Homo sapiens: one gene and its partner. The protein of the gene in region 1 interacts with the protein of each later gene in a biochemical or structural test. Each region holds a gene or a part of one and is shown in the gene's direction. Other genes may lie near its edges. The genes, in order: ESCO2 and SMC3.

Region 1 (16,893 bases):
TTCAGTGTATGGATTTTCACCTCCTTGGTTAAATGTATTCATAAGTGGGGTTTTTTATGCTATTATAAGTGGATTGTCTTCTTGACTTCTTTTTAAGATAGATCATAGTTTGTTTTTCCTGTATAGAAACACTACTGACTTTTGTATGTTGATTTTGTATCCTGCACCTTTTCTGCATTTGTTTATTCTAATAGTTTTTTTGGTGGAGGCTTTAGGGTTTTCTGTACATAAGTTCATGTCATTTGCAAACAGATGATTTAACTTCTTCCTTTAAATTTGAATGCCTTTCTTTTTTCTTCCTAATTGCTCTGGCGAGGAATTCCAGAACTATGTAGAATAGAAATGATGAGAGTTAGCATCCTTGTCTTGTTCCTGATTAAGAGGAAAAGATTTCCACTTTTCATTGCTAAGTATGATGTTAGTTGTGGGCTTGTGATATATGGCCTTTAGTATATTGAGGTACATTCCTTCTGTACCTAATTTGTTGAGAGTTCTTATCATGAAAGGATGTTGGATGCCTTTTCTGTATTGAGATGATCATATAGTTTTGTTCTTCATTCTGTTAATATGGTGTAACACATTGATGTGCATGTATTGAGCCATCCTTGCATCCAGGGATAAAGTCCACTGGATCATGGTGTACTATGCTTTTAATGTGCTAGTTTGCATCTGTTTATCAGGGATATTGGCTGGTAACTTCTCTTGTAGTGTCCTTTTCTGGCTTTGGTATCAGATTAATCTGGCCTTGCAAAATGACTTTGGAGGTATTCTTCAGTTTTTTGGAAGAGTTTGAGGATTAGTATTAGTTCTTTAAATATCTGGTAGAATTTAGCAGTGATGTCATTACAGATGGGCTTTCCTATGATGCAAGTTTTTTTTTTTTTCTTAAACTGATTGAATCTCCTTTTTATTGGTTAGTTTAGATTTTCTGTTTCTTCATGATTTGGTATAGGTAGGTTGTATGCTTCTAGGAATTTATTTCTTATAGGTTACCTAATTTGTTGATATATGATTATTCATAGTCTCTTACGATCCTTTGTACTTCTGTGATAATCAGTTGTAATGTCTCCTCTTTCATTTGTGATTTTGTTTAGTTGAGTCTTCTTTTTTCTTAGTCTAGCTAAAGGTTTGTCAATTATCTTTCAAAAAACCAACTCTTCATTTTGCGAATCTTTTCTATTTTTTGAGTCCCTGTTTAATTTATCTCCACTGATCTTTATTTTCTTCCTTCTACTAACTTTGGGCTTTATTCTTCTTTTTCTAATTATTTGAGGTGTAACGTTAGGCTACTTGAGATCTTTCTTCTTTTTTTATGTAGAACTGCTTTTGCTGCATTCCATAGGTTTTGGTGTGTTGTGTTTCCATTTTCATTTGTCTCAAGAAATTTGTCAATTTCCCTTTTAATTTCTTTGATCCATTGGTTGTTCAGGAGCATGTGGTTTAATTTTCACATATTTGTCAGTTTTCTACTTTTCCTCCCGTCATTGATCTCTAATTTTATACTGCTATGAATGTTCTGTGTGCACTTGAAAAGAGTGTGCATTCATTCCGCTGCTATTGGATGGAATACTATATGTGTTTCTGTTAGGTCCATTAGGTCTGAAGTGTAAGTTCAGTGTTTACTGGCTGAACTCAGTGGCTCACACCTGTAATCCCAACACTTTGGGAGGCTGAGGCAGGAGGATAGCTTGAGGCTAAGAGTTCAAGAACAGCCTGGGCAACATAGTGAGACCCTGTCTTTACAAAAATTAGCCAGGCATGGTAGTGCATGCCTATAGTCACAGGTACCTAGGAGGCTGAGGCAGGAAGATTACTTGAGCCCAGGAGTTCGAAGCTGCAGTGTGCTATGATCGCACCAGTGCACTCCGCTCAGGGCAATAGTGAGACCCTATCTCTTAAGAAAGAAAAAAAAAGTTCATTTCCTTATTGATTTTCTGTCTGGACGATGTATCCATTGTTGAAAGTAGGATCTTGAAGTCCCCTACAATTTTGTATTCCTATCTATTTCTCCTTTCAGAATCCTAAATATTTATATATTTAGGTGCTCCAATGTTAGATGCATATGTATTTACAACTGTTTTATCTTAATGAATTGACCCTTTTATTATATAATTACCTTCTTTGTCTCTTGATGGTTTTTGACTTAAAATCTATTTTGTATGATGTAAGTGTAGGTACTTCCTGTTCTCTTTCGGTTTCCATTTGCATGGAGTCGTTTTTCTGACCCTTCACTTTCAGTCTATGTGAGTCTTTTGTAGGCAATATTTAGTTGAGTCTTGTGTTTTTATCCATTTAGCCACTCTGTGTGTCTTGATTGGCAAACATATTCTATTTACACTTAAAGTAATTATTGATAAATAAGGATTTACTATTGCCATTTTGTTTTGTTTTCTGGTTGTTTTATATATATTCCCTTCTTCCTCTCTTGCTGTCTTCCTTGGGATTTGATGATTTTCTGTAGTGGTGTGCTTTGATTTCTTTATCTTTTATGTATCTACTATAGGTTTTCGCTTTATGGTCATGAGGCTTACATAAAATATCCTATAATATAACAGCCTATTTTAAGCTGATAACAATTTATATCACCTACAAAAGCTCTGCACTTTTTTTCCCTTCAACATTACTAATTTTACAGTTTACATCTTTTTATGTTGTGTATTTATTTAAGAGGCCTTTTCCTTCTTCGATCTCAAAGAAGTAGACTGTTATGTCCTGATAATAGGCAAGATGTAGCTAACTAACTGTTCTCTTCTACTCTCAGGTCAGAAACAATGTTGTGTTGTTCGTAATTAAAAACTAAATACACACCTGTCAGAAGGGTAACAGTAGGTAAAGAATTGAGACAATACCAAATGCTAGTGAGGATATGGGGAAACCAGATCTCTCACACCTTGTTAGTAGGAATGTAAAATATTACAGCCACTCTGGAAAAAGTTTTGAAGTTTCTTTAAAAACTAAACATAGGCCAGGCGCAGTGGCTCACACCTGTAATCCTAGCACTTTGGGAGGCCAAGGCAGGTGGATCACCTGAGGTCAGGTTCGAGATCAGCCTGACCAACATGCTGAAACCCCCCGCCTCTACTAAAAATACAAAAATTAGCTGGGCGTGGTGGTGCATGCCTGTAATCCCAGCTACTTGGGAGGTTGAGGCAGGAGAATCACTTGAACCCAGGAGGTGGAGGTTGCAGTGAGCGAGATCGTGCCACTGCAATCCAGCCTGGGCCACAGAGTGAGACTCCGTCTCTTTAAAAAAAAAAAAAACTAAACATGTATTTACTATATGATCCAGCCATTGTTCTCCTGGGCATTTAAGTAAAACAAAGGAAAACTGATGTACACACAAAAACCTGTACAAGAATGTTAATAGCAGCTTTATTAGTAATAGCCAAAACCTGGTAACAACCAAAGTGTCCTTAAATGCTTTAGGTGAATGATAAGCTATGATACAGCCATATGATGGAATATTACTTAGCTATAAAAAGTAACAAAGAATTGATACACTTAACAACTTGGATGAGTCTCAGGGGCATTATGCTGAGTGGGAAAAAGCCAATCTCAAAAGGTCATATGGTATATGATTTCATTTATATAATATATAACATTCTCATAGCCATGGGGAATAAATTGGTGGTTGTCAGGGACTGAGGATGGGAGAGGGGGTAGTGTGGATGTGACTATAATGAGGAAGAAGATCTTTGTGGTGACTCAATAGTTCTGCATTTTGATTGTGATGGTAGTTAAATGTATATACAGGTGTGATTAAGTGTCATGAAACTATACACACCATTATACCAATGGTAATTTCATGGTTTTGGTATTATACCAGTTATGGAAGATGTAATCATTGGGGAAAACTCAGGGAAGGATACATGCTCCTCTGTAGTGGTTTTTTTCAACTTCTTATGAATCTATTTCAAAATAAAAATGTTTAAGAAACGAAATGCCAACCAAATTTCATAGTTAATAGATATAAATCTTCTTTAGTGTTACTGGTTTCTTTAGGTGGTCATATATACATTTTAGGATGGAGAGAATGAGAGAGTTTTATATACTTTATTAAAAGGAAGAGTCTAATGTTTACAATTGTTTAAGAGGAAAGTCTCGTAATGCTATGGGACACACTAGAATTTGTGAATGTCTCAACACCACTAGTTTTTTTAAAGCATTGTGTGACTAAAGGGATAAGAATTTAAGAAATAGAAAATATTTTTTAACATACTTGGAGATATAAGTTAAATTTTTGATACTTATTTAAGGAATTTTTTTTTAAAGCAGTGTGAACTCATCTGTGGTGTTAGCTATAGATGCTTCTGTATATCATTGCAGGCATTTCGTGTCCTGTCTGAACCAATTGGTCCAGAATCCCCAAGCTCTACGGAATGTCCTAGGGCTTGGCAATGTTCAGATGTACCAGAACCTGCAGTCTGTGGGATAAGTAGAATCTGGGTTTTCAGACTGAAGAGAAGAAAGCGCATTGCAAGACGACTGGTTGATACCCTCAGGTAAGAAATAAAATGGATCTAGATCCAGAACCTTAGATTCATAGCTTTCCCAGAACCTCTCGGCTTCTGAGCTAAAGGGAAGGATATTGGTAAGATACTTCAGTATAAATACTATTAAAGTCAGGCTAAGGAAGGTATTGGTACTAGAAAAACCATACTAGATGTACTCAGTCTAGGGTGCAACATTCCAGGTCTGAAACATACTAGCCCACTGCTTTTCAAACTACCTGTGCTAAAGGACTAGTTTAATTTGTCACAGACCAACACTAATAAAATAAAAATGGATTGCTAGAAAAAAATAGAAAAAACAAAACTACAATCTCAAATTGTTTTAGACTTAACAGATGTGAAATTACGCTTCAATAAATATAATCTATACAAAGTAAAGGTTTGAAAAATTACAGAAGCTGTACATGGTCATTGATAGTGACTAGATAATGAAGACTTGGTATAACTCATAAGCATAACTAAAAAAGTGGATTTGTGAGACAATCCATAGAACGAGAGAAAATAGTTGCAAATCATTTGTCTAAGGGTCTAATACCCATAAAATAATTCTTATAACACAATAAAAAGACAACCTAATTTAAAAATGGACAAAGAATTTCAGTAGACATTTCTCCAAAGATAAATTGCAAATGGTTAATTCAACATAAAAAGATGCTCAACATCTTTATCAGGGAAATCACAAAACAAAACCATAGTGAGATCCCACTTTATACCCAGTAGGATGACTGTAATCAAACAGACAAGTGTTGGTGAGGATGTAGAGGAAACTGAAACCCTTGTACATTGCTGGTAGGAATGTAAACTGGTGCAGTTGGTGTGGAATACAATCTGATGGTTTCTCAAAGTTAAACTGTTATGTGACCTAGCAGTTTCACTCCTAGGTATATACTCAAGAAAACATGTCCACACAAAACCTTGCACATGAAGGTTCATAGCAGGATTATTTATAAAAGCCAAAAAAGTGTAAATAATCCAATCTGTGATTAATGGATAAATGTGATATATCGATACAATAATAACAATGGGATGTTATTCAGCCATAAAGGAAATTCTGGCACACACTGCAACATGGAGGAACCTTGAAAACATTATGCTAATTGAAATAAATCAGTTGCAGAAGATCGCACATTGTATGATTATATTTACATAAAATGTCCATAAGAGGCAGGCAAATCCAGAGGCAGAAAGTAGATGTGTAGTTTCCAGGGACTGAGGAAAGATGAATGGAGAGCAACTAATAATGAGTACGGGGTTTGGGATGATAAAAATGTTCTAGAATTAGATAGTGGTGGTGACTGGACAATATTTGTTAATATACACAAAACCACTCTGTTGTACACTTTTAAAGGGTGAGTCTTACAGTATATGAGTTATATCTCAACCAAAAAAATGAGTGTCCAGTTTTAATTCCCATGTACACACTTTGAACTGACACTATGTATTGATGTTTAAAGTTTCCAATGTCACAAACAAGCCTGTTTGCTAATTTACCTAATCTAGGTTATATGGATGAGTTTCACAACACTTGCTCTCTCAATTTCTACACATATTTCATCGTGTAGATAATAGGTTACAAACCAGTAAGCACACTTTAACCAAACCAAAGACCACACTTTGGAATAGTGTTATTCAAGCCTCTTGCATTCTATGCCACTTTTAAAAAATAAATGCCAACACCATTATGGGGACCGGATCTTGGGCCATAAATCCTAGTCAATCACACATACTTACAAAGGGTATCAGTAGGAAAAATTGGTATCTTAAAGATTTTTGTTTGATTAGTTATGAAATACTTTTCTATGTTTTATATTAGATATATAAATTTGGTATGAGGAATACCAGTATCTAACCTAGTTCTACCATATTATGTATTTAATTATAGTTAATATATTAGAAGCTTATATCTTCTAATTGAATCAAATTCTAAATTTTTATTCCGAAATAATTTCAAACTTACGAAAGAACAAGAGTAGTAGGAAGCCTTTGTCAAGATCTATTAAGTTCAACATTTACCTCATTTGCTTTACCATTCTATGTTTAGATAACCTTCCTGAATTATTTTGTTACATATATTATGCCCCTTTACCCCTTCATGCATTGGTGTGTTTTTCTTAAAAACAAGAATATTCTCTTATATAACCATGATACAGTTATCAAATTTGGGAAATTTAATATTGATGTAATGCTTTTATTTGACAGTCCATATTTCACTTTTGTCTGTTGTCTCAAATGTCCTTCATGGCATTTTTTTTTTTTTTTTTTTTTTTGCCCAGTATCACATTCAGCATTTAGTTTTCACGTCTCTTTAATCTTCATCTTCCCTAATCTGGAACAATTTCTCAGTCTTTTGACATGGAAAAATTTGAAGAGTGCAAGTCAGTTATTTTATAGAATATCCCTCAATTTTGATTAATTCTTTTTTTTTTTCTTTCACAAACAAGCTGTAGGAGATGTTGAATTCTTTTAACCATTTCCTTATTACTTTTAATCCTAAGGTAAGCAAGATCAAGGAGAGTTGTAGTCAAAATGCAGATTAGTTTTTCCCTTCTTAAAGCTCTCAGTGGATGTTTACATTGAAAAAATATATATAGGCTGGACGGTCGCTCTTGCCTGTAATCCCTGTACTTTGGGAGGCCGAGGCGGGTGGATTACCTAAGGTTGGAAGTTCAAGACAATCCTGGCCAACATGGAGAAACCCTGTCTCTACTAAAAAAAAATAAATAAATACCAAATTAGCCGGGTGTGGTGGTGCATGCCTGTAATCCCAGCTACTCGGGAGGCTGAGGCAGGAGAATCGCTTGAACCCGGGAGGCGGAGGTTTGTAGTGAGCAGAGATCGTGCCACTGCACTCCAGCCTGGGCGACAAAGTGAGACTCTGTCTCAAAAAAAAAAAAAAAAAAAAAAAATATATATATATATATATATATATATTATATATATATATATATAGTTACTGCTTAAGATTGATTTTTTTTGGTTCTAATTATCTTTGGCTTTTAATTAACAATATGATCTTTTTTTTATTTTTATTTTTTGATTGAGTTGGAGTCTCACTCTGTTACCCAGGCTGGAGTGCAGTGGCGAGATATCGGCTCACTGCAACCTCCGCCTCCTGGGTTTAAGTGATTCTCCTGCCTCAGCTTCCCAAGTAGCTGGGACTACAGGCATGCACCACCATGCCCGGCTAATTTTTGTATTTTTAGTAGAGACAGGGTTTCACCGTGTTAGGATAGTCTCGACCTCGTGATCCGTCCGCCTTGGCCTCCCAAAGTGCTGGGATTACAGGCGTGTGCCACTGCGCCTGGCCTAGCAATATGATCTTATATTAGTTGCTCTTTACCATGGATATCCTAGAGTTAGGTGGATGGTTCCCTTTGCCTCTCATCAGAATTTTTTCTGGACCTTAGTTTTCCCATCTGTGAAATGATATCATTAGACTTCTGTCTCTAAAATATAAGGCATTTTTTCACTTACTAAAAATAAGGTTGATTTAAGTCAAGAGTATTTACTTAAATTGTGCTCATGTTAATTAGAATGTTAAGTTGCTTCCATCATTAAATCATCTTTTCTTCTCTTTTAGGAATTGCTTCATGTTTGGCTGTTTTCTCAGCACTGATGAAATAGCATTTTCTGACCCAACACCAGATGGCAAGTTATTTGCAACCAAGTACTGCAACACCCCTAATTTCCTCGTATATAATTTTAATAGTTAAAGCTGATTTCAGTTATAAAGGAGTTACTATCTGGATAAGTTCAAAGAGCTCCTTATTATAAAATACAAACTATTTAATATCAAAATAAAAAATACCGAGACTCACACTCATACACACACACACACACACGCACACACACATATCACAGTTTTGTTCCTTATGAGTTGAAAAGTCAGGAATAAATTTGTTGAAAATTATCTGGGGATTCAAAGGAAAAATCTTTGGGTGATTCCCTGATTAGCACTCTGAATGTTTAATTATGAAACTTTGTAGCTATAACTGGAAAATTACCTGACTCTTTGTAAGAGTATTAAATACAAAGTGATTTTTCTCTAGAAATGTGACCTGGTCTTTTATAAAGCCCACTCTTAGACCAGGATTATCTAATGCCACATCAGAAGCAAACAGGCAAATTTAAACTTGGGCAAGTAATTTCTGTGCCCAATTTGTAAAGGGAATTCCTGAATTTTTTTTTTTTTTTAATAGAGGCATGGGTCTCACTGTGTTGCCCAGGCTGGTCTGAAACTTTTGGGCTCAAGCGATCCTCCCAAAACGCTGGGATTACAGTCATGAGCCACCGTGCCCAGCCTAATTCCTGACTTCTCTATACAGAGTCTTCACTTGATAGGCACTCGTCTGTAGTAACTCAGTTTGAATATCTTTAGAAAATGTTTAGAATTTATTTGTAACAAGATGGTAAGGAATAAGATTATCCCATATGCATTTCTGTAGAGCAGAATTTGATAGCTTAGTGTTCAATCTTTTTGAAAATAAATGTTTACCTGTCATCAGATTTAATTAAAATTATACTTAGTAATTGCACTATTACTTAGTTAATTTTTGTTGTATGGAAATATTGGTAGTACTACTTTGGGAACCTGTTACTGACAATTGATGTCATTAACAAAATGCCTAGTTGGATTAGATGTTTTCATTTTCTAATTTTTTGCTTGTTTAAAATGCACCTTACTTGTTCTGAGATACCTGGCAAAAGTCTTTACAAAATGTATGGTAATAGAACCAAGGTTAGTAAATATACATAGGCTGGTGGATGAGAGACCATGGAACTGTGTAAATACACTTAAATGTTCACACATTTTTCTAGTGTAATTCTTGGATACTTTAAAAAGCAAAACATTGTTCAAATTGTTTTGATTCTGAAAAATCATTCAACTGCTAACTGGCAATAAGACTCTAGGCAAGTCGTTTTCCAGATTGTAATTATATGTAGAAACTATTCATCTGCATTCATTTTATTTGCCTGTAAGTTAACATGTTTCCAAAATTTAAAAGCCTGGGTCCCCAAAAGAATGTGGAAGTATTAAAATGTATGTAATTATGCAAACATTTTAATGCTATTTTCTGCACTTATTTCTTTTAAATATTTTATTTAAAATTTTTAATTAACATTTTGTTTGCTTAATGCTTTTGTTATGAATCAATTAAAATTCTTTATTTTATACAACTAAATCTGATTTTAATTATTTTATTATGAAAATAGTATATGTTAAATAAAATTCAGATAATACAGAAATAGAGATTGCCAAAAGAAGAGGCTTCCCGGCCGGGCGCGGTGGCTCACGCCTGTAATCCCAGCACTTTGGGAGGCCGAGGCGGGTGGATCATGAGGTCAGGAGATCGAGACCATCCTGGCTAACAAGGTGAAACCCCGTCTCTACTAAAAATACAAAAAATTAGCCGGGCGCGGTGGCGGGCGCCTGTAGTCCCAGCTACTCGGGAGGCTGAGGCAGGAGAATGGCGTGAACCCGGGAGGCGAGCTTGCAGTGAGCCGAGATTGCGCCACTGCAGTCCGCAGTCCGGCCTGGGCGACAGAGCGAGACTCCGTCTCAAAAAAAAAAAAAAAAAAAAAAAAAAAAAAGAAGAGGCTTCCCTTAATCCTGCTTTGAGTTTAGTGCTTATTACTTTAGAATAACTAAATACATATGCAGTTATTTTGCATCTTGCCTCACTTCAGTATGTCTTAGATATGTTGTATTTCAAGAACTATTTCTATTTTAAATATTTAGCATGATTTGCTATTGATACTGTTGTCTTGGTTGGGTGTTTTTTGTTTGTTTGTTTGTTTTGTTTTTAAGTATAACACATACAAGAAGCAAGTGCACTGAGATGGTCTCAAAGCAATGATACCCTAATGGCAATGAGCACACCTACCACCCAGATCTTGGTTGGTTTCTTTCTTTTTTTCCCCCGCCCTGGGCTGAAGTGCAGTGGTACAAACACGGCTCACTGCAGCCTCGACCTCCCAGGTTCAAGTGATCTTCCCGCCTGAGCTCCCTAAGTAGCTGGGACTACAGGTGTGTGTCACCACGTCTGCTTAATTTTTGTATTCTTTTTTTAGTAGAGACAGAGTGTCACCATGGTGCCCAGCCAGTCCTTAAGCTCCTGAGGCCCTTGAGCTCCTGAGCTGAAGTGATCCTCCCACTTCAGCCTCCCAAAGTGCTGGATTATAGGTGTGAGCCACGGCACCCAGCCAGATCTTGCTTACTAATACCTTCTTCCACAAAAGGACCTGGGGCTCTTTGGAGAAATGGCTCATTCTAGGGATAGGGCAATGAATGTACAAGATGAGCCTAGATCACCTTGTACATCCCCCCTTATCTGCAATTTCGCTTCCCACAGTTTGTTACCAAAAATATTGCATGGAAATTTCTAGAAGTAAGGAATTCATAAGTTTTAAATTGCCCACCATTCAGAGTAGCCACAGTGGGGTGATAAGTGCTCAGTTAAGATGGAAAAGGCATTAAATTTGTGGGCAGAAGACATGCACAGAAACATATTCCTATTGAGGGCAATCAGGTTGAGTACTGTCCATGGTTTCAGGCATTCTACTGGGGGTCTTTGTCATAAATTGTGCCAATATATGTGTATGTCTATTTCTGCCTGTGTATTCTTACTAATTTTATATAGGTTCTATTTATGCTAATACCAGACTGTGTTAATTATAGTATCAATGTTTGCTATAGTATTAGTACATGGTCCCACTTTTTTTCTTCGGTCTATTATTGGACTTTGCATTTCCATATACATTTTAGAATCAATTTATTCCACAAAAAGCTACCAACAACAAAAAAGCCTGTTGGGATTTTATTGGAATTGTGTCAGATCTATAGATCAATTTGGGAGGACTGATTTTTAGACTTGCTCAAGTATTGGATACTTTCTTTTTTTTTTTTTTTTTAGACGGAGTTTTGCTCTTGTTGCCCAGGCTGGAGTGCATTGGCACTATCTTGGCTCACTGCAACCTCCACCTCCCGGGTTCAAGCTATTGTCTGCCTCAGCCTCCAGTAGCTGGGATTCCAGGTGCATGCCACCACGCCCAGCTAATTTTGTATTTTTAGTAGAGACGGGGTTTTACCATGTTGGCCAGGCTGGTCTTTAACTCTTGACCTCCAATAATCCACCCACTTCAGCCTCCCAAAGTCCTGGGATTATAGGCATGAGCCAGTATGCCCAGCTGTTACTTTTTTTTAAGCCATTGGGAAAAGTGTTTTAAGTTACATCTTGTTTGCTGATATATAAACTACAAGTTTTCTGTTTTGACTTTGTATTCACAATCTTTCTAAACTTAATTAATTCTAATTTATCTATTTCTATCTACATAATATCTGTGAATGAGTTTTCTTTTAGAATCTTACAGCTTTTTTGTTCTTACAATATTGCATTTCTAAGATTGCCAGTCTAGTACAGTGTTGAATAAAAGCAATGGTAGGGGGCATATTTGTTTCATTGCTGATAATAGGTAAAGTTTTCAACATTTTACTATTAAATATAAGGTTTATAGTTTCTTTGTAGATAAATTTCTAATATTAAGGAAGTTCCTCTGTCTATTCCTAGGTTTCTAGGAAGCTCTCAAACATCTTGAACAGATACTCAGATTTTATAAAAAGTCTTTCTTCTATCTTTGGAGATGATTTTGATTTTTCTTTATTGTTAATATGGCGGTTACATTGTTCTTTGAATGTTAAAGCAATCTAGCCTCCCTGAACTAAATAAACCAAACCCAATTTGGTCTTGATGTTTTTCTTTTTAATGTTATTGGCTTCAGTGAACTAGTTTTCTTTTGGACTTTTCATGTGTTCTTGAATAAGATTGGGTATCTGTAGGATCTGTAGTAAAGGTTTTTTCATTCATGACATGTCTTTTTTCTCCACAGATGAGTTTTGCCTAGGGGTTTATCAATTTTGTTAGTATTTTTGAAGATTGGCATTGTTAATCCTATCATAGGTTTGTTTTCTATTTCCTGTAAGTTTTAATTTTTTCCCCCCATTGGAAGGGAGGTACTATGGTCTGAATGTGTTCTACCAAAAATTGTATGTTGAAACCCTGTCCCCCAAGATGATGTAATACCATCGTAAGTAGTGTCTTTAGGAAGGTGAATGGGTCATGATGGTGGAAGGAACCCTTAGGGATTAATGCCCTTATAAAAATAGAGGGTCGGGGAGCTCCCTTGCTCTGTCCACCATGTAAAGACACAGCCAGAAGGTGCCTTCTATGAGGATGCCCTCACCAGATACCATCTTGATCTTGGACTTCCTAGTCTCTGGAACTATGAGAAATTTCTGTGGTTTGAGGCACCTCGTTTATGGTATTTTTGTTATAGTAGTCTAAGACGGGAGACTTGTTTTGTTTTTCCCAAATTCTTAGCTGATATATATAGCATTTTTTTATATATAGTTTTTATATGTAGCATTTGTCTAGTTTAAAATCCTTTCTAATTTTTATTCTAATCAACAGATTGTAGAAGATTAAATAGGTACCAGGAGACATGAAAGAATCATCTTCAACATTTCTCAAGTAGCTGCTGATTATCTCCTTTTATGGAGGCATAACAAGCTCCTGGAGGCTTCTACAGATTCTAAAGGGAAAGATTTCCTGGGAGGTGAGAAAGCCACTTGAGAGAAGGCTATTTTGATTTACTAATTAATTCAGTGTAAAGGTAGTCCTGGGCACGGTGGCTCACGCCTATAATCCCAGCAGTTTGAGAGGCCTAGACAGAGGTTGCTCAGGAGTTCCAGAGCAGCCTGAGCAACTTGGTAAAACCCTGTCTCTACAAAAAATAAAAAAAAAAAAATTAGCCAGGTGTGGTGGCACACACCTGTGGTCCCAGCTACTCGGAGTGGGAGGCAGAGGTGCAAGGATCACTTGTGCCTGGGAGGTTGAGACTGCAGTGAGCCATGATTGCCCCACTGTACTCCAGCCTGAGTGACAGAGCAAGACCCTGTCTCAAAAAAAAAAAAAAAAAAAGCCCTCAGCCAAGTCACATGTTGCTCTTTTGAGAATGAGGCAAATGTCCAAAAAGATAACATCTGAGACTTAGAGCAAGTTCTAGAACAAGAATAAAAAAAATTTTCTTCCAGTTGGTAGCAGATTGTCTGCAATCTTGTGTTGAGGATTTCTAGGACCTCACCAGACTCAAGGGGCAGTGCATGCTGGGATTATTTTGTAATGTCTACCATAGACAAGGGCTGTGAATTTGCTGGTCTTGTCCTTGGTATTAGTTTATTCCTATTAGATATCTCAACTGTAGGAAGTGGAAATAAATTTCTCAATGAAAAGCAATGGCTTATGTATTAAAGAGCCAATTCAAGAAAGATCCAGTTCCTGCTTTAAGTCTTAAAGCAGGAACTGCTATTCCTGCTAGGAAAAGAATGCCCTGGAGAAGCTGCTCTGTTGGCTTGGCAAAGAAGAGTGACACATGTCAGAGTGAGGATAAGAGACCCTATTGAGTATCAGGATGCAAAATTATACATACGTTTTTCTACAAATTAAGACAACTTCCAATTTACTTGTCACATTATTTTGATGGAATATATGCAAATTAATGTTGTGTCCTATTGCTTGGTACAATCTTATACCAAAAGGCCTTCAGTGATTTCTAGGCATTTTTAAAGTTCAGAGTGCAGTTGTTCCTAATGTTTCTGAGAACGCCCTGTGTCGGTAATTTTTAAAATTCTGTCTACACCCAAATGTAGGTATACCACCTACATTGGCAATTCAGTAATTTGGAAAATTCCCAGGGGACTGTGGCTTACAGAAACTACTGATCCAAAACACTTTATAGATTAGCAAAATAAGGCCAAGAGAGGGAAAGAAACCTCACATTTACTCAAGTTTAATGACAACACTCAAATCAATGAAGTATAAAATAATGCTGAGACACCTTCTGGTACCCAAAGTGTCCTTTATTCTTTATCATCCTATTTGAGTTTTATTGTTTTTACACAGCTGGGAAATGCTTAAGGTACAAATTAATAAATTTTAAACTCAGTATGGAAAATACATTTAATAAATTAAAGCAAAAACCAAAGATCTGAGGAGATCCAAGAGATCAAGACAATCTGTAACCAGAGTCTGAAGTATCCAAGGAGCTACTCTTTTTGAGGCATATTCTCCTCAGCTTCCAGTTATCATTTGATAAACACATCAGCAAAAGGTTCAGTGTTTTAAACAAATGTAGACTTTATTTTGTACTGTACAAAGTGCTAATGTCAGTAGATCCATTAAAATATAGAATATTTAAGAAAGATCATTAATAAAAGTAATGGTCATTCAATTTAATGTTACAGTTTACAGCGTTTTACTGCTAGTGTTTTAAGTCAGCATGAGCAGTATCAAAGTACTTATGTAGCTAGTTTCTAAAACTTTACAGAAAACCCAGTACAATTCCAAGTGCTTATAGCCAATATAAGCATATTTCATATTAGAAATAGTTATCCATATGTTAACAAGAAACTATGGTCCTCAAATATGCCAATTTTAGAGTCTAATAACTACTGATAGTAACTATGTAAATATTTTGGAATAAACAGTTATTTACGCAAGCCACACTTCAGCTGAGATGATCACTAGACATCTGTTTCCAGAGCTTCAACAATGTGTGCAGCAGAAGGACGATCTTTAGGGTCTTCATTAGTGCATACAGAGAAGAGTTCAATTACTTTCTGGTATGATTCATCCAGTTCTTCCATATTAATAGGTGGCCTAGTTCCCAACGCTGCATAGTATGCTTCATCATCAAAATCACTTTCATCAAAAGTTTTATCTTGAAGGAGTTAGAGATTGAAACAATAAACAAAATCACTTTATGTCATGGAAAAGTTTAATAGCTCACCCTTCTCCTGAAACAAGAATTTATGGTCCAGTATGCTTTCCATTCTGCCACAGACAGAATGGAAATGTCTTCAATTGTCCTGCCATCAAGTAGATTTGCTTTAGTCTTGGATTTATAGGTTATCGACCCCTACTTTTACCCTTCCTGTGATAGTTTTCCAATCAATCATTTTCTCAGGAAAGGGGAGTTTTTAAGATAATGTTTTGCTTCTCTGGATAGCCTCAATTTTTCTCCCTATTCTCAATCTATGTCTCATTTGTGTGAGATTAAACCTTGGTGGTACCAAATCAGTCATCAGTACTAATACATATCTTAGAAAGATAAAATTATATAATCTTTAGTGTGAAATGAAGAGATTGGGATTTATGTTAGAAATTGTATTCATACCTTCATCATCATCATCATTTGAAAGATTAATGTGTGGAATCGATAAAGTCATCATTTCCCACAAAGTAAGGCCAAAGGCAAATATGTCTGCCTTGTCAGTAATAACACCATTCTCCTCCACAGCTTCTTTGGGTTTCCATGGCTCTGTGCCAATGTAACAAGCCTCAGGGTCAGTCACTGAAACAAGCAAGATGGTTATGAAGGCAGGAGCTACAAATCACGAAAAGGCAAGCAACCCAAAGGGAAACAGGCGAACGATTTGAACAAGTAGTTCACAGGTTAATCAGTGTAGCCAGAAAATGTAAAAATACACTCAACCTCAATAAGGATTACTTTCTACCTTTCAGGTTGGTAAATATTCAAGAAGCTGGTCAGTTGGCAGGTATGTAGAGAAACAGCAATTCTCTTACAAATTAGTAGGAATATAGAATGTGGATGTTGAGATTACAGACTCTGGAGCCAGACTGCCTTGCTTGGGTTGGTTCAAAGACATGTGTGTGCAAGCTGCGTGACCTTGAGCAGATCACTTCTAGACCTGAATTTCTTCATTTTGTGAACAATATTAGGCTGAGAGAAGTACCATTTCTATGCTTCCATGATTGCTATGTCAAGGAAAAGGGAAAGGGACCAATCACACATAGGCTCTTTTTTAAAGCCCAAGAAAGAAATAGGTCCACTCACATTTCCATTTAAACTTGAGTCAACTTGTCAATTTCAATGAAAAAGCCAGCTAAAATTCTCATTAGGATTGGACTAAATCTCTGGATCAATTTAGTAAGCATTAACATCTTAATAGTATTGAGTCTTCCAAACCGCAGTCATATATTTCTCCACTTAGTTATATCTTACTGAATTTTCTCAGTGATGCTTTATAGTATTCATTACAGAGGTTTTAGACTTTTTTGGTTATTTATTCCGAAATATTTTGGGTTTTGGTACTTGTAAATAGATTTTAAACAATTCCATTTTCAATTATATACTGCTAATACACAGAAATGTAATCACTAACTTCACTATAGCTGTTTTATAGATTCCTTGGGATTTTCTACCTAAACAACATATCAACTGCAAACGGGGACAGTTTCGTCTCCTTTCCAATTTTGCCTTCTCCATTTTCTTGCCTTATTTTAGTGGCTAGGGCTATAGGACT
Region 2 (16,893 bases), on another chromosome or scaffold:
GCACCCGCCACGACGCCCAGCTAATTTTTGTATTTCGAGTAGAGACGGGGGTTTCGCCATGCTGGCCAGGCTGGTCTTGAACTCGTGACCTCAGGTGATCCTCCCCCCTCAGCCTCCCAAAGTGCTGGGATTACACGCTTGAGCCACTCGACCAGGCCTATTTATTTTTTTAAACCAAGGGCTGGATAGGATTTGATCCGGGCTCCAGATAAAGGACTCCTAGGGAGATACCCTGGTTAGCAGAGGCAGTTAGGAGGCTACTAAAAATAGTTCAATCTAGAAATAATTAGGGCCAGAATTGTCTCCAGCAGCGGGCGGGGGTGGGGCTGGGGATGATTTGGGTAGTTATTTTGTTCTCTTCCCAGCAAGTAATTTCAGAGCAGCCCAGAGATTCATTTTCTAAACAAATGATGTTTTTCTCCCAAGACTGACAAGGATCAGACAGACCTAGGGTTGCCACTAGCACCTAGTATCTTTCAGGCTGTTTTCTTTTGTTTTTAAAGTGGATTAAAAGCTTTCAGCCTTACCTAAATCTTTGTTGCAATTGTACAGATCTGCCTAGATTTATAGCAGATGGTAGAACAGAAACAGTTCCCGACGGAATTAATCATCACATTATTAAAACAAATTTTCGAGCATTGACAAATCCCTTCGGGGTTGTCCTCCGAGTGGGCAATTCGTAACCAGCTTGGGGCGTGCTAAGATTGTAAACGTTCCTATGGAGAGCGATAACAAAGGGGCAGCAGTGACTCCGCACACAGAATTCCAAGAATCACCAGCATTCCATGTGTTCCAAGGCTAGCACAGTGCGCGCGAGGTCCGCTTTTTTAAACAGCGCGGAATCACGTGGCCGACAGCCCGCGGCGCTACTGGCCCTCGGAGTCTCCCTCTTGGCTTTGGCGCGGAACCTTTCCCCCTTTGTGGACGCGACCATTGGCCCCGCGCTCGGAGGTGGTACGGACCAACCCTACGGTCATAGATTTTCCGAGTGAAGCTTTTGACTAAGTCTCAGGAAAGCGTTAGCTACAGAATTCTAGATTCAAAAGAAATCCACCAAAAAACGCTGTGGAGGACTGGTTTTGCCTAAAAGAAAGAGCAGACCTGAACTTGACTCCTCCTACGCCCTGTGAAGGCTGCAAGGTGGTTCCGTCCGAGGCGCGGACTCCGCCCCCACGAGCGCCGCCATTTTGTTTGGCTGAGGGGAGCGAGCGGCGCTTTGGGGGAGGGGTCGCGTAGGCGCCTCACCTGACCCTGCGGCCGTGCGGTTGCTGCTCCGGGGCAGGTCTCCTTCCAGGCCAGGGGCCCGGAATCATGTACATAAAGCAGGTAAGGCCTTCGCGTCCCTCCACCCCGTCATGGGCCGGTAAGGGCCGCTCCTTGAGGCGGGAGTGTTGCGGCGCCACCCGCAGCCTCTCCCCTGTCTCCACAGGCTGGACCAGGGCTGGGCGGGGACTGTGGGGGAGGAGGGAGACCCGGGTCCCGCTAGTGCCCCGGCTGCGGGGTCGCGGAGAATTGGGGCACTCCTTTGCAGCCCCGGCCTCCCTGCTGGCGCTTGTCTGGGAGAGGCAGGATCTCCGAGAGGTGTGGAAGGGCCGGCGGGCGGGCCGCTGGGAGGGACTGGGCCTTCCTGGGTGGCCCCAGAGCTGGCGGGGGGCACCCCGCCGGGGCGGCCGCGGGCGGGAAGGGCTGTGTGGTCCTGCAGGGGTGGCCTCACACGGCCCATGTGCCTGGGATGTGTGGAAAGGTGGCTTCCCCGGCCCGGGGGCGGCCCTGGGGGCATTGGCTGGGGTGTCGTCACCTGTCACTGCGGGGAGCCGTTCTTCTCCCCAGTTAACCCGCGAAGTGAGCGGGACCCTCCTGCTTGCAGGATACGGAGCGCCGCCTCCCTCGGTTGTTTACTTCTGTCAAAATGGTCTTCCCGCGCGGGACTCCACCACAAAGATGAGCCCAGGCACACGGCCTTGGAGACGGTTTTCTGTTGGGTCTGTCGGGCTCTGAGCACTCCTTCTTTGGAACGTGGGTTCTTTCAGGCTGGCCGGCGTGAGTGACTGAAAGCAGCACTCGGTGGTCTTGGAGTCAGGAGAGCTGGGGCCCGTCGGCCTGCTTTTATAGACTTGCTATTGTACTGCAGCGTTTAGGGTTCAGTTAAGCTCACACAGTGTTTTTGATTTTGAAAGGTCCTTAACAGGTTGACAGCATAACTCCTAAAAAAAAATAAAACCCAGCAGCATTGCCTTGGCAAAGATTACCGATAAAAGTACCTTTTTTTTTTTTTAGCAGATTTTTAATCACCACTTTCCAAAATGAATTTTTCTTATATGAAATTTCGAGTTTTCTATATTGCATTAAATGAAAAACAAGAAAGAAATGCAAGAGAAAAATGTTAATTTTTTTTGTGGGGTGGGTTCTCAAAAATGTTTTTTATTTACTAGGTGATTATCCAGGGTTTTCGAAGTTACAGAGATCAAACAATTGTAGATCCCTTCAGTTCAAAACATAATGTGATTGGTAAGTGTTCTTGGTTTACTCGGTCATATTTATAGTCTATACAGATAATGTAAATTCTGTCCATTTCTATATTGGCTTAAGGAGACAGGAATTGTCTTTGAATATTAAGTTATATTTTTCTGCGTGAAATAACTTTTCTGTCTTATTGCACTGATGAATTGCTTATTTTTATAAACTTAAAATGTTTGGATAAGACACTCATAAGTTATCCATTTTTTATCTAGGTAGCCTTGTATGTGTGTGTAAGAGTGTTTTAAAGCATTTCCGCTCTTCTGTTCTTGTTATATATCCTAGTGAAAATGCTGACTGTTGCCTTATTTCAGAGACAGACAATTTTTATTCACAAAGTAGATGCCAGGATTCCCCCCCCACCCCGGCAGTCAGTGTCTCTAAGGACAGACCATGTAGCTAGATTGGAAGAGCATAAACTTTGGAGCATAACAGAATGGGGTTCAAATCCCAGTTATAGGGGGGTGGGGGCCTGGGGGAGGGATAGCATTAGGAGAAATACCTAATGTAAATGTCGAGTTGATGGGTGCAGCAAACCAACATGGCACATGTATACCTATGTAACAAACCTGCATGTTGTGCACATGTATCCTAGTATAACAACAACGAAAAAAAAAATCCCAGTTGTGGCACACGTTCTTTTTCACTTTCTGAGAAGCTTCAGTTTTCTCATTTGTAAAGTGGAGATGATACCTGTCTCATAGGGCTGTTGAGAAGATTAAATGAGAAACCTTATGTAAGTGTGAAGATAAAGAGCTAATGGTGATTGCCATTAACAATATGTAGTCATTATAGATTGCTCAGATTGTAGTGTGCATTTTGCTGATACAGCTAACAAAAATGTTTTCTGACACTCTGCTGAGTATTTTACAGGATAGATGAAAGGAGTGCTTCTGGACACCAGAAACACAGACTGCTGTTGACACAGTTTTGCTGTACAGAGTCCAAACTAAGTGGTGTATTAGTTTGCTAAGGCAGCCATAACAAAATACCATAGACTGGTGGCTTAAACAAGATATTTTTTTTCTCATAGTCTGGAGGTCAGACATCCATGATCAGGATACCTGCATGGTTAGGTTCTCGTGAGGCTCTCTTCCTGGCTTATGGACAGCTGCTGTCTTGCTGTGTGCTCACATGGCCCCATCCTCATGTCCTCATTTAACCATAATCATCTTCCAGGGGTCCCCATGTCCAAATACTATCACATTCGGGATTAAGGTGTCAGTTGTTTCAGGGTGTCAGTTCAATTCAGTCTGTGGTGCGTGGGTGAGATTCACATTACTAATGTTTCCAGAAGACCTTTAGAGAATCATACTTCATTTTGTATAAAATGATAAAATTGAAGGCAGGTTTTTTTGCCCTCGATTTATCAATAGCAGCCTTGTAGTTGGGAATAAAGAAGGCATACTTTTTTTTTCCCTGCTTGTGCTCTGTCTACTGAAGTCATTTAATTGAATTGACATGCCATAGGGTGGCTTAATTGTACTGGGGTTTTGCTTACATATAAGTACTTTCTGATTTTTTTCATCAATCAGAAAATCTTTAGAAATGTAGAAAAATAAGAATTATTAGATTTCTGTTTTCTTTAACTTGCACCTTAAAATAAGTACCTTAATATTTCATTTGTGTGATTTTATAAATGATCTGTAACTTACTAGCTAGAATGATTACATTTTGTCTATAAGGTCCATCAAATACCATTGTTTTAGCTGTTATCAGTTAGTTGTGTTACCTCTGTGATTGCAGCATTAGATTTGTTAATAGTCACTGTTACAAAGGAAAATGGTTTTGTTTAACTAAAACAAATGAACCCAAGATAACAGTACTGATTAAACATATTTTAAAACCAGACACGTTGTAAGACATAATGTAAGAAAGACCAAAAGTAGTTAGGTACTGAGATTTGCCTTAAAAATATCTGGTGAAAGCATACCACTTTGATTGATGAATGATGTTGACTATTAAAAAATATCTCTTGTACTGATGTTGGGTATATGCATCAAACATATACGTTTTTAGGGATTTTTTTCCCCCTAACCTTTAACAAAAGAAATACATGTTATAGAACATTATGGAAAAGCTAAAAGGAAGAAAATTAAGATAAACTATAATCCTTTTACTCAGAGATAACCATTCTTTGTTTTTTACTGCACACCATGATTCTTCAGAGATAACCATTCTTAATAATAACAGTCTATACTTGTGATTAGTCCTGGTTTCCTAGAAAACAGCACAGACAGGATTAGCTGCTAAGGCTTTGATGGGAGGTGCAGTTTGAGGGCAAGAATGAAGAGAAAAGCTGGTCATAGATTTCTAAAGAAGAGACAGGTGGTTTGCAGTCATGTTAAATAACTCACAGACTTTGTGGACCCACCATACCTTAGAAAGGTCAGATGATAGAGGAATGGATTTGGATTCTGACAAGGATTTGTTTGCAGGCACCTGTCTTTCATTGGTCAAAGTTTTCTACATCTGGCATTGATGCCTCCAAGCTTTTGGATTGTGGTGCTCTGGGAACTAACACCCGGAAGTAGTCAGGGAGTTATAGCCTCCTTTCCATGTTCACAATTCAGGAGTACCTGAATGTACTCCCAAGGTAGCTTGAATCTACCAGAGGTATTAGGAGACTGAGCTTTTCCATTGATTGGCAGCCAAGGCCTGGGTTGAGAAAGGTGAATCTGGGGCCACATATAAACTGTGTTTACCTCAGTACGTTTTTAGTCTTTGTATACATCTTTTTAATATATATTTAAATAAAAATGGGTTCATTTTTAAATAAAAATGGGTTCATTTTTAAATAAAAAATGGGTTCATCATATAACTTACTGGTAATCTGTTATTCTCCTTCAGGATAAATCTTGAAATATCTTTATTAAATATTCAGCATCCTTTAAAATTGCTATATAGTGTTCCACTCTAGCAGTAATTCTTAAAAGGAAATTCTTAAAATTTCAGTTATTTATAGATGGATTGTGGTTTGAAATATTTATTCATTTAATGATAAATTGTCATCTTAAACTTTTATTTAGAAATAGTTTCAAATTTACAGAAAAATTTCCCCAATAAGAACTGTTCAGAGACTACTCATAAACCCTTTACCTAGATTCACCTGTTGTTAACATTTTCCCCACTTGCTGTATCATTTCCACTTTTTACACACCTTTTTCCTTAAAGTTATTTACACCATGGTCCTTTACCTCTGACTTTAATGTGTACTTTCTAAGAGGAGGGATGTTCTCTTTCATAATCACAGTACAATTTACAACTTAAGTAAATTTAATACATAGTAATCTGTCCATTTTCCAGTTATGTTGACTGACCCAGAAGTGTTCTTGATAGCATTTTTCCCCCTCCAGTACAGGATCTAATTTAGGAGCAGGTATTGCATAGTTGTCATGCTTCTTTAGTCTCCTTTAATCTGGATCATTTCCACAGCCTTCCTTTGTCTTTTATAACATTGTTATTTTTGAGAATTAAGACATAAGTGATGTTGTGTCCCTCTCAGGATATCACATCTGGAGGCACATGAGGTCTGTCTGACTCTTATTGATGATATTACTTTTGATCACCCAGTCAAGGTCTAATGTTTCCACTGTGTAGGTATTATTTTTTCCCTTGCAGCTAATAAGTAATATAGGCAGATGCTTTTGGACCATGTAAATCTTGTGCTCCTTTTCAAACTTTGTGCCTGCATTTACCATCTGTTGATGACCCTTGCCTTTATTCTGACGGTCACAAAATGATTTTTCATTTCCAGCACTCCTTTCACATTTACAACTTGGCATTTGGTAATTCTCCTCCTTCCTTACCTACTTATTTATCTTTTTATTATTGGTATGGATGCATGGATTATTCCCCCCACCAATAATTTATAATTTATTTGGCCATTTTGATGCTCAGATTACCCCTAGTTTTAGCTACTGAAAGGCCCCTTCAAGCTGGCTCCTGTGTCTGTCATATGCGTTTTTTTAAAAAGTACATCCTTTCTGGCATGACATGAATGATCTTTTTGAGATTTACTTTGCATTAAAGGTGGTAACTTTGTGGTTAATTTGCTCAGGATATTTCTGGCTCAAGAGTGAGAAGACTGACATAGTTATTTATGAGTCTTAACACTGAAAATTTCACTAAACACACTTAAAAGGATTTGATACCCTTTTACGTATTGAATTGCTTATATTTGAATTTTGTTAGTCAAAAAGTACCTTAAAATTATTTATATTTTTGTGGTTCTGTGAGACTACACATGATAATATAGGGTTGATTTTAAACATGAGAACACTTTAAGGATTTAAAATGATTATTTTAGAACGTTAGCAATATATGAATCTTTAAATTGTTAAACATATATAGTTAAAATAGAATTATATATCCATTGTAATATGATATAAGAGCCAGGTAGTATATTTAGCTATTCCTATTCATTTTAAACTATTGGGTAAGAGCAAACGGATCAACTGTGAAATATCTTTAAAGAAAAAACTATTAGAAGTCTGTACAAAAATTGAATTTATTTGGTGATTATAGTTGTTTTATTGGTTTCTTTTGTTCACTGTTTAATTTCAGATGTTAAGATGTATTAGAAAATTGGATTTTAAAAATATTGAGTATTTTTAAAAAGGTAAACAGTTTTAATTTTATTGGTTTTTATGTAAAATAACTTGTACTTTTTGAAATTTTCCAGTGGGCAGAAATGGATCTGGAAAAAGTAACTTTTTTTATGGTAGGTGTTGCTTTTTGAATTGTAAATATATTAAGACCTGGGTATCTTAGGGTAGATTATTAAAATCATTAATTTTCTGAGGTTATGTATTCATGAAACCCAAGAAATACTTTATATGGGGTTGCAGCTTAGTGTAGAGGGTTTAGAGTATACAGATCTGAATTCTGCTTTATACCCAGTGGCTGATTAGCTGTGTGAGAGTGGGCAAAACACGTAGCCTCTCAAATTTTTCTTTTCACTTTAAAAATGGAGATGTTTGGATGTTTGCCCTGTCTACCTTAGATGGTTTGTAAGAATGGAATGCAATAGTATGTATGAAAATGCTTTTTAAACTTGAATGTAATATATAAATGTTATAAATGCATATTTTAAACGTATGTAAATGCAGTAGAATAGTTGATAGTATTGTTTTGGAAAATTGTTCATCTTTCTTATTTCACCTTTTTGAAAACGTTTTCTAAACCAATCATCTTTGTAAAGGATGAAGAGGTATAAAAAACTTGAAACTGAACAGACTGTTGTCACTTTGAAGATAGTAAATAGAGCTTCAAAAATTCTCTCTAAATTGCATTTAAGTGTAAATAGCAATGCGTCTGTTAACAAATCCTTTGAGGAGAAAAACATTTTAACAAAATTAGACAGTTAAGGAGTAGGTTGAAAAATTTGAACTTTTTAGTTGGGTAATGCTTGAGGGAAAGGGGCATTTAGTGGACTGGCTTAGTAAGAACAAAGGTTCTATCTCTTCTGTGCACACGAATCTGAAAGGCACTCTCTAGCCTGTATATCCTATTGTGGTTGTAATTTGGCAATGATGAGAGAATGGACTGAAGTGGAAGTATTTCAGAATCTCCAGGGCAGTGTGAAGTCTCCTCACCTCGACCTGTGTCCACAGCACACACATTAATGCTTATGCACGTACTTGCTGATGTGGGCACCCCCACCACCTCCACACACACACAGTGCCAGAGGTCTCTTGGGTGGACTGGGACAAGAACAGCTGAGTAAAGAGTTCCACTTCCTAGGCAGGGTGGTCCAGTTAGGTACTCTATACCGAAGTAGGAACGGCCCCTTCTTACAGAGCTCGGTATAGTATAAGAAGTGTAGTATAAGTTGGGCATCTCAAACATTTCCCTGTATTTCCTTAGTTTTATTTCTTTTGGTAAAGTATCCACTTAAGCATATTCTCAAAATACATCCTATTTTGTTAAAAAGGATTTTAACTCATATCATTTATGTCTAGTGGGGAAAAAAGCAAATACAGTGTTAACCTAATCCAGTCAGTGAACACTTTGAGCCAGAGGTATACCTTAGTTTTGCTTGTCTGTTTTCATGTATTTCGGTGGTTTCTCTTTATTTCCTTACCTTAAATGTTTCAATGAAAACTTCTCAGTATTTTTCTTATATCATTTCCTACCTGATTAGTCTGATGTGCAGGCACATTTTCTGCATTTCCTTTTGTCCATATGAAACAGATAATTTATTTGCATTGTCTATTACCAGACACACTATGTTCTATTGAGGTGTGGGAAGTTATAAATAAGTTATAAACACTTTTTTAGGGTATACTAATAGTTGTTTTTGTATTTCCAGCAATTCAGTTTGTTCTCAGTGATGAGTTTAGTCATCTTCGTCCAGAACAGCGGTTGGCTTTATTGCATGTGAGTGAGACTGCTTTAAGACATTATTGATATTACATATATTTTAAAAATAAATTTTCCATGCTGGTTAAAAAAGCATTTGTTCAAGTTTCAGATTCTTTGTGAACAAGACACAATCTTTCTCATAAGTGTGTTACTCTGCTGTGAAATTTAGCCTAACATATTAATGCCAGATAAAAGCCCAATTTTTATACAGTGGTTTAGGAGAAAATTATAGGATTTGCCTATAGATGGATATGTCCTCCATATAAATGTCTTAAAGGAGACATGATATATATCATAAGTGTTTTATTCTGCTGTGAAATTTAGCCTAACATGTTAATGCCAGATAAAGGCCTAATTTTTATGTGATGGTTAGGAGAAAATTATAGGATTTGCCTATAGGTGGGTATGTCCTCCATGTACATTTCTTTAAGGATGTGATCTGCAAAGGCTTAAGAAGCAGGTTTGCTGAGGAGAAAGAAGAGTTTGAGGTTGCAGATTAGGAACTTTAAGATGCAGAACCAAAAATTAATTGGGAACATAGAGAAACAACCATTGCAAACTAAACAACATACAAGTTGTTTGTTGTTTTAGCCATATTTGTACTTAGATAGTAAACATCATTTTCCAGTATGAAAAACAGTAGAGATGTTCTGCAACTTACAGCGGGGTTATGTCCTAATAAACCTATCATAAACTGAAAATACCATAAGTCAAAAATGGACATTAGCCTACAGTTGAGCAAAATGATCTAACACAAAAGTCTGTTTTATAATAAAGTGTTGAATCTGTCATATAATTTATTGAATACTATGCTGAAAGTAAAAAACAGTGATTTTATGGATACTCAAATTATGGTTTCTACTGAATGTAGACTGCTATCACGTTGTCATTCAGCCATTTGTTGAACCATCGTAAGTTGGGGACCACCTGTATATTTACAGTAATGTGAGTTAGGATATTTTATTAAGTGGGTCCTTTTGTAATGCATAAGCACGATGATTGGGTTTTCGTGTTCATGTGAGTCATGCCTCCCTCAAACCTTGTTAGGACATTGGCACATTACCAATGTGATGTGGAAAAAAATATGAGTAATGGACTAAAGTAATTTTAGGATAGAAAATCATGAAAGACTACAATAAAACGATTAATCCTTCTGATTTGAATATTGTTTATTAAAGACTAGAAAATGAAATTCCTCAACATGTCTTAACAGTGTTTCTCACACATAGGAAATTGTTTTGTTTAGCTCTTGTCTGTCTTTTCCCCTTGTTTAGTTTGAATTTGTAGCCCAGTAATCAGAATTGATTTCCTTTAGAAAAATTCTTTTTAGGTTTTTCAGATTGGCATTAAAATAATTAATAACCTCTTTGGTACAGTTCTTCATTGTATTTACTACATAGTTTCTATAATCTGGAAGGTATCTGGACTTGGTACCATAGTTTTTGTGTCATAGATTGGTTTAAATGTGACACATGTTAAATGTGTATATTTCTATAATAGATTTAAAACTGTAGAATGTCTCAATTTTTCTTAAAAAACAGACTTTTGGTAATTATCCCATGATTTATTAGGATTTCTTTGCAGCATTAAAATGAGACTGTAAGAGAAAAGCCTCATGGTGTATTAGATATTAGCAAATAGGTAGAGTTAAATGTCCCCAGTCTTGCAGTCTAATAAAGTGGTCTGTAGAATCATATTTAAGGATATCTAACTTTGACATGTCTTGCATAGCTCTTATTTTTTATTTAGAATCAAAAGCTATTTGGTTGAGAAGTTTTGTTGTCCTAATCTAACGTCTCTGCTGTTTTGGCAAGAGGGATATATACTATAACTCTGGGGATATCCCCAAAGTATGTATCCCTCTTGCCAAAAGAGCAGAGACGTTAGATTAGTGTGTGTGTGTATATATGAATCTAGCAGAAATTTTTCTCCATTGAATCAGACTTGTTATTATGCCCTAGACTTTAAGAATCCTTTAAAGGATATGAATATACAACTTAAATGGCAAATTTCTCACTTCTTTCATTTTTAGGAAGGTACTGGTCCTCGTGTTATTTCTGCTTTTGTGGAGATTATTTTTGATAATTCAGACAACCGGTTACCAGTAAGTAACTTTTTTTTTAAAGTAATGTTGAGAATTTAATTGGTTTAGCTGATTTTCTTCATACTTTGAAACTTTTTAAGCTTTTATAATTTGTTATAATTACAGTTTATATACTGATTTTATCTTAAAATGACAATGAATACTCTGTTAACAAATGGGAATGTACAAACTGTTGTGAAAAGTGTCTTGGTTAAGAGTATTGAGTATTTGTAGTATTATTTTTAGTGAGATAATTGAAATTTTAAAATAAATACTTATGGGCAAGGACTTTAAAATGACCTTATTTAAAAAGTTTTCTCCTTTACTATTAAATTAACTGTGGGCTTTTACATTTTTTCTTAGATCGATAAAGAGGAAGTTTCACTTCGAAGAGTTATTGGTGCCAAAAAGGATCAGTATTTCTTAGACAAGAAGATGGTCACGTAAGCATTTTTCTTTTTTTTAAAAAAACTGAATATGTACTTAAATAGAGATGGGGTATTGCTGTGTTGGCCAGGTTGGTCTCGAACTCTTGGCCTCAAATGATCCACCTCGGCTTCCTAAAGTGCTAGGATTACAGACATGAGCCACCACGCCCAGCCAGCATTTTTCTTTTTCTCAATACGGAGTCTTGCTCTGTCGCCCAGGCTGGAGTGCAGTGGCGCAGTCTCGGCTCACTGCAACCTCCACCTCCCGGGTTCAAGCTATTCTGCTGCCTCAGCCTTCTGAGTAGCTGGGATTGCAGGCAGTCACCACCACACCCGGCTACTTTTTGTATTCTTAGTAGAGACGGGGTTTCACCATGTTGGCAGGCTGGTCTCGAACTCTTGACCTTGTGATCTGCCTGCCTTGGCCTCCCAAAGTGCTGGGATTAGAGGCATGAGCCACTGCGCCCAGCCCGCAATTTTATGATTTCCTTACAAAAGAGTAAAAAGTATTCTTTTACCTGCTTCATATATGAGGAATATTTGCTTCATCTTCAACAAGTCAACATATAGAGGATAAACATAAGAATCAGAAAGTTCTGAGGATGATACAGATGGTTTAATTACTGATCTTTCCTCCCTAATGCTATCAACCAAGGGGCTACTCTACTCATTGCTTAATGGTGCTTTAAAATTATTTATCGGAAAGTAATTTCATTGTTTGTCAACAGGAAAAATGATGTGATGAACCTCCTTGAAAGCGCTGGTTTTTCTCGAAGCAATCCTTATTATATTGTTAAACAAGGAAAGGTAAAACAATTGTATGTCCTTTTTAAGTAGAATTTGTTTTCTGAGTAATTCTTGAGTGATGAATTTGGTTTATTGATTTGAGTGGTTAAGCTGAAGCAAAAATGGCCATATTCTTTTACATGGCCATAAAGTACCAAATAGGTCCATTGCATGTTGAGATGGAAGTATTTCAGCATATTAAGTGGATCTTGTTTTCCTAGTGACTGGTATTACTTACTGAGGTGAAAGTATGGGAAGACATTATTGGCTTATGAATGTTGCAATAATTAAGAATATTGTAGGAATTCTATAAAAATCACATTTGAAAAACTTTCTAAAATTAATATTTTGTGTTACCTAATTATTTATCACAATTAAAATACTGAAAAGCTAACATTACCAGAAATCTGCCATTTTGCCACATGTTATTTTCCCTAATAGGGATTATGTTTTTACATTTTTTCAGCAGCCAAACTACAAACTTTTTTAGCTGATTGTTCTGCTCTCTTCTCATATACTTTCACTTTTTTTTTGGACTAGGGAAAATTCTCAAAGAATATTCACTTATTTTATACTGTAGGCCTTTTTTTCTAGATATGTATTGGAAAGTTAGCATTTAGAAGAAGTGATTAGGAAGAATATGGAGTTTCAGTTTTAGAAAATGTGTTACTGGAAGAACACGTTTTTTTCCGATTTAACTATTTGTGGGAGATAAATTTTTTTAAATGGAGGCTGATTTGAAAGAGCACTTTTCTGAGATCCGTCTGCTGTCAATCTAGGCCCTTTTACTTCATTTCAGTTTCTGCCCGTATGCCATCCTTGATTGCCTCATCTGAAAGCATTGCCGTCCCCTCAACCCTATGTGCTTTATTTCCTTAATCTGTTTTATTTTTCTTCATAACACTTACACTGTTAGGATAGTACTTATTTTCTGTCTTTTTCCATTAGAATGTAAGCTCCATGAGGGTGGGACCTTTTCTGCTTTGTTTGCTCTTTTCCAGTGCCCAGCAGTGGCACATATGTTGTAGCCATTTGAAAAATAATTTTTAAGTGAGGAAATTGCATGAACCAATATGTATAATTGGAGCGTTCAATAATGAGGATCTGAAGGATGATTCTTTGATGTAGATACTTTTGATAGACCTATTTTCGTAGAGATAATTTCAATTTTTTAATGCAGTGATATCATTTTTGACATTTAGGGATACTTGTTATATATTAAGTTGCATGGCACTTAAGTTGTACCATTCTCTCTATATTTAAAGCATACCATTTTTGTCATATCATTAGCCTTCTGTATCTGTAGGTTCCACATCTGCAAGTTCAGCCAACCATGGATCAAAAATATTTAAAATAAATAAAATTTTAAAACAGTACAATAAGAAATAATACAAATTTAAAAATACAGTAAAACTATTTACATAGCATTTACATTGTATTATTATAATTAATCTAGATATTAAAGTATATGGAAGGATGTGCATAGGTTATATGCAAATACTATGCCATTTTATATAAGGGACTTGAGCATCCTTGGATTTTGGTACCTGCAGGGGGTCCTAGAACCAATCCCCATGGAAACTGAGGAAGAATTGACTTTTAATATATTATTGTAGCTTTAAAAAAAAGTGTAGTCAGTGATGGTTTTCCCTTATAAAAATACTTTGTTTTTTGAGAATGGAGCTCATCTTTTATACCTTATCATATTGACTAAGAAAAAGATGGTGGTGTGAGATACTCCTTCACTTGTTAGCCCTATTCATAAAGGAGAGTTATGACCGTAACAGTTGTATTTGGATTTTATTTGGTAAATTTCATTTAAGTAAAGGAGACATAGATATGTAGGCATGCGTACTATACAAATGACATTAGCCAAATCATAATCTGTTTAAAACTTGGCATGTCCCAAATTCAAAAGTCTGAAATACAGAATGCTCTACAATCTGAAACCTTTCGAGTGTGGACATGACATTCAAAGGAAATGCTTGTTGGAACATTTTGGATTTCAAATTTTTGGATTTGGGTTGCTCATCTGGTAAGTATAAATGCAAATATTCCAAAACTTGAAAAAATCTAAAATCTGTAACACTTCTGGTTTCTAACCATTTTGCATAAGGGATACCCAACCTTCATGTGTATTAAAAACCTTTCAACGTGGAGTTCTTCTTCTTAAACGGAGGCTACAGCTATGTAATGATTATTTTTCTAAAAATTTTAGATCAACCAGATGGCAACAGCACCAGATTCTCAGAGATTAAAGCTATTAAGAGAAGTAGCTGGTACTAGAGTGTATGACGAACGAAAGGAAGAAAGCATCTCCTTAATGAAAGAAACAGGTAAAATAAATGTGATTCTGCCTTATTTTTTTGTTGCAAATTACTGTTTTTGTGACAGAGTGGCTCCATGATGGGAATATAGTAGGTGTTTAGTATATGACAGCATTAGATAATGCTGTTATTAATAAAAATTGAGAATCCATAACACCAATGATGTTAGTAGCTTTTAAAAATATTGTGGAAACGCACACTGACTTTTTTTTTTTTTTTTTTTGAGATGGAGTCTTGCTCTGTCACCCAGGCTGGAGTGCAGTGGCGCGATCTCTGCTTATTGCAACCTCTGCCTCCCGGGTTCAAGTGATTCTCCTGCCTCAGCCTCCCTGAGTAGCTGGGATTACAGGTGCCCACCACCATACTCAGTTAATTTTTGTATTTTTAGTAGAGACAGGGTTTCACCATGTTGTCCAGGCTGATCTCGAACTCCTGACTTCAGATGATCCACCTGCCTTGGCCTCTCAAAGTGCTGGGATTACTCATGAGCCACTGCGCCTGGCCGGCACACTGACTTTTTAAAAGGAAGCTTAAACTGAGGCCCTTACTACATGTTATAAAAGAACCAGTGTCACCATGTGTAAATTTGTTCTCTGGTGCTTTTCATAATAAAGGATCTTAACCCATTTATGCCTAGCATTCCATTATTGGAATCCTAAGCTTGTGGATGTTACTTATATTCTACTGCTCAAGGTCATTGCCAAGGTCTGATTTTTCACAGAAAAAAATTTGCAACCTCTGGCATAAATGGGTTAATTGCTATTTTAGTATTTTAAATTGGGTTACCACATCACATCAAAGAAATAATGCTACAGTTCTTAAAAATAATTTAATTCAAGGTATATTTAAGAAGTGATATTACATAAAAATCTTATTCAATTCTTCCACCTCTCTCCCCATTTCTTTTAAGAGGGCAAACGGGAAAAAATCAATGAGTTGTTAAAATACATTGAAGAGAGATTACATACTCTAGAGGAAGAAAAGGAAGAACTAGCTCAGTATCAGAAGTGGGATAAAATGAGACGAGCCCTGGAATATACCATTTACAATCAGGAACTTAACGAGACTCGTGCCAAACTTGATGAGGTAAAATATTTACCTGTGACACTTAAAATCAGATTAATTTTGTTTTTATGAATTTGTTAAACTCAGGCCATAATTACACTTTTCAGTGATTTTAAATAGAAACTTAAAAAAAACCTCTCAATGAATTTATTAGTCAGCAAGTTTTTTTAGTTCAAGGAAATTAGCCATGTGGTCCTTGCTATATAGTATTATCTGAAATATAATCAGATGGTGGTATTAGGCAGACAAGATGAGAGGAAAGCCATTTTGAAGGCTTCTTGTAGTTGTAGTATATCCTAAACTACACATTTTGTACAAAAATTTAGTGCTTCAGTTTTCTAGTTTAAAATCATTTTTAAAATTTTTGTAGAAAATTTGAGCAGTTACTTTTGGTTTATTTTAATAGAAAAATTTTTATTAGATGTTATGAAATATTTAGTAATTACAAAATGAGTTAGATATGATAAGTTGTTTTTTTTCTTAGCTTTCTGCTAAGCGAGAGACTAGTGGAGAAAAATCCAGACAATTAAGAGATGCTCAGCAGGATGCAAGAGATAAAATGGAGGTAAGATTATAAACAAGGTTCATGTTAACTTACTTTTTACTTTTGAGACAGGGTCTTGTTCTGTCATCCAGGCTGGAGTACAGTGGTGCCATCATGGCTCATTGTAGCCTTGACTTCCTGGGCTCAGGCAATCCTCTTGCCGCAGCTTCCTGAATAGCTGGAGCACAGGTGTGTACCACCACACCTGTCTAGTTTTTAAATATATTGTAGAGACAAGGTCTTACCATGTTGCCCAGGCTGGTCACAAACTCCTGGGCTCAAGTGGTCCTTCTGCCTCAGCCTCCTGAAGTTTTTTTTTTTTTTTTGGAAGACAGGGTCTCACTCCATTGCACAGGCTGGAGTGCAGTGGTGAGATCACAGCTCACTGCAGCCTTGATCTCTCAAGCTCAAGTGATCCTCCCACCTCAGCCTCCTATTTTTGTTATTTTTTGAAGAGATGGAATCTCAGTATGTTGCCCAGGCTGGTTTTGAACTCCTGGGTTCAAGGAGTCCTCCCACCTGGGCCTCCCAAAGTGCTGAGTTTACAGGCATGAGCAACCATGTCCAGCCATCGTATGTTTTTGACCATAGTAAACCCTTTTGTACCAGAATTATGGAATGATTACACAAGGGAGAGTTAGAGGAATTGAATATTGAAAGGACAGAGTATTACTAAACATTAAGTGAAAGAGAATTAATGGTGTCACAATTCTGCTATTGTACTTCTAATTGCCTTATTTTCTGTTTAATACTTTTGAATAGGATATCGAACGCCAA

What was found.
Region 2: of the proteins of ESCO2 (region 1) and SMC3, one has a biochemical effect on the other in vitro, tested with the Homo sapiens proteins (one study listed by BioGRID).

The regions. Positions count from the first base shown.
Region 1 is NC_000008.11:27,795,215-27,812,107, forward strand, and holds the end of ESCO2 (N-acetyltransferase ESCO2), read left to right. Parts: intron 1-4,326; coding exon 4,327-4,502; intron 4,503-8,091; coding exon 8,092-8,224; 3' UTR 8,225-10,102; downstream 10,103-16,893. Other genes in the region: PBK (lymphokine-activated killer T-cell-originated protein kinase), read right to left, coding at 15,091-15,287, 15,744-15,953. UniProt on the Homo sapiens protein: Acetyltransferase required for the establishment of sister chromatid cohesion. Couples the processes of cohesion and DNA replication to ensure that only sister chromatids become paired together.
Region 2 is NC_000010.11:110,566,506-110,583,398, forward strand, and holds the start of SMC3 (structural maintenance of chromosomes protein 3), read left to right. Parts: upstream 1-1,189; 5' UTR 1,190-1,311; coding exon 1,312-1,326; intron 1,327-2,432; coding exon 2,433-2,508; intron 2,509-7,201; coding exon 7,202-7,240; intron 7,241-8,830; coding exon 8,831-8,898; intron 8,899-9,854; exon of another isoform or gene 9,855-9,956; intron 9,957-10,915; coding exon 10,916-10,987; intron 10,988-11,329; coding exon 11,330-11,409; intron 11,410-12,122; coding exon 12,123-12,201; intron 12,202-14,398; coding exon 14,399-14,516; intron 14,517-15,417; coding exon 15,418-15,593; intron 15,594-16,056; coding exon 16,057-16,137; intron 16,138-16,878; coding exon 16,879-16,893. UniProt on the Homo sapiens protein: Central component of cohesin, a complex required for chromosome cohesion during the cell cycle. The cohesin complex may form a large proteinaceous ring within which sister chromatids can be trapped.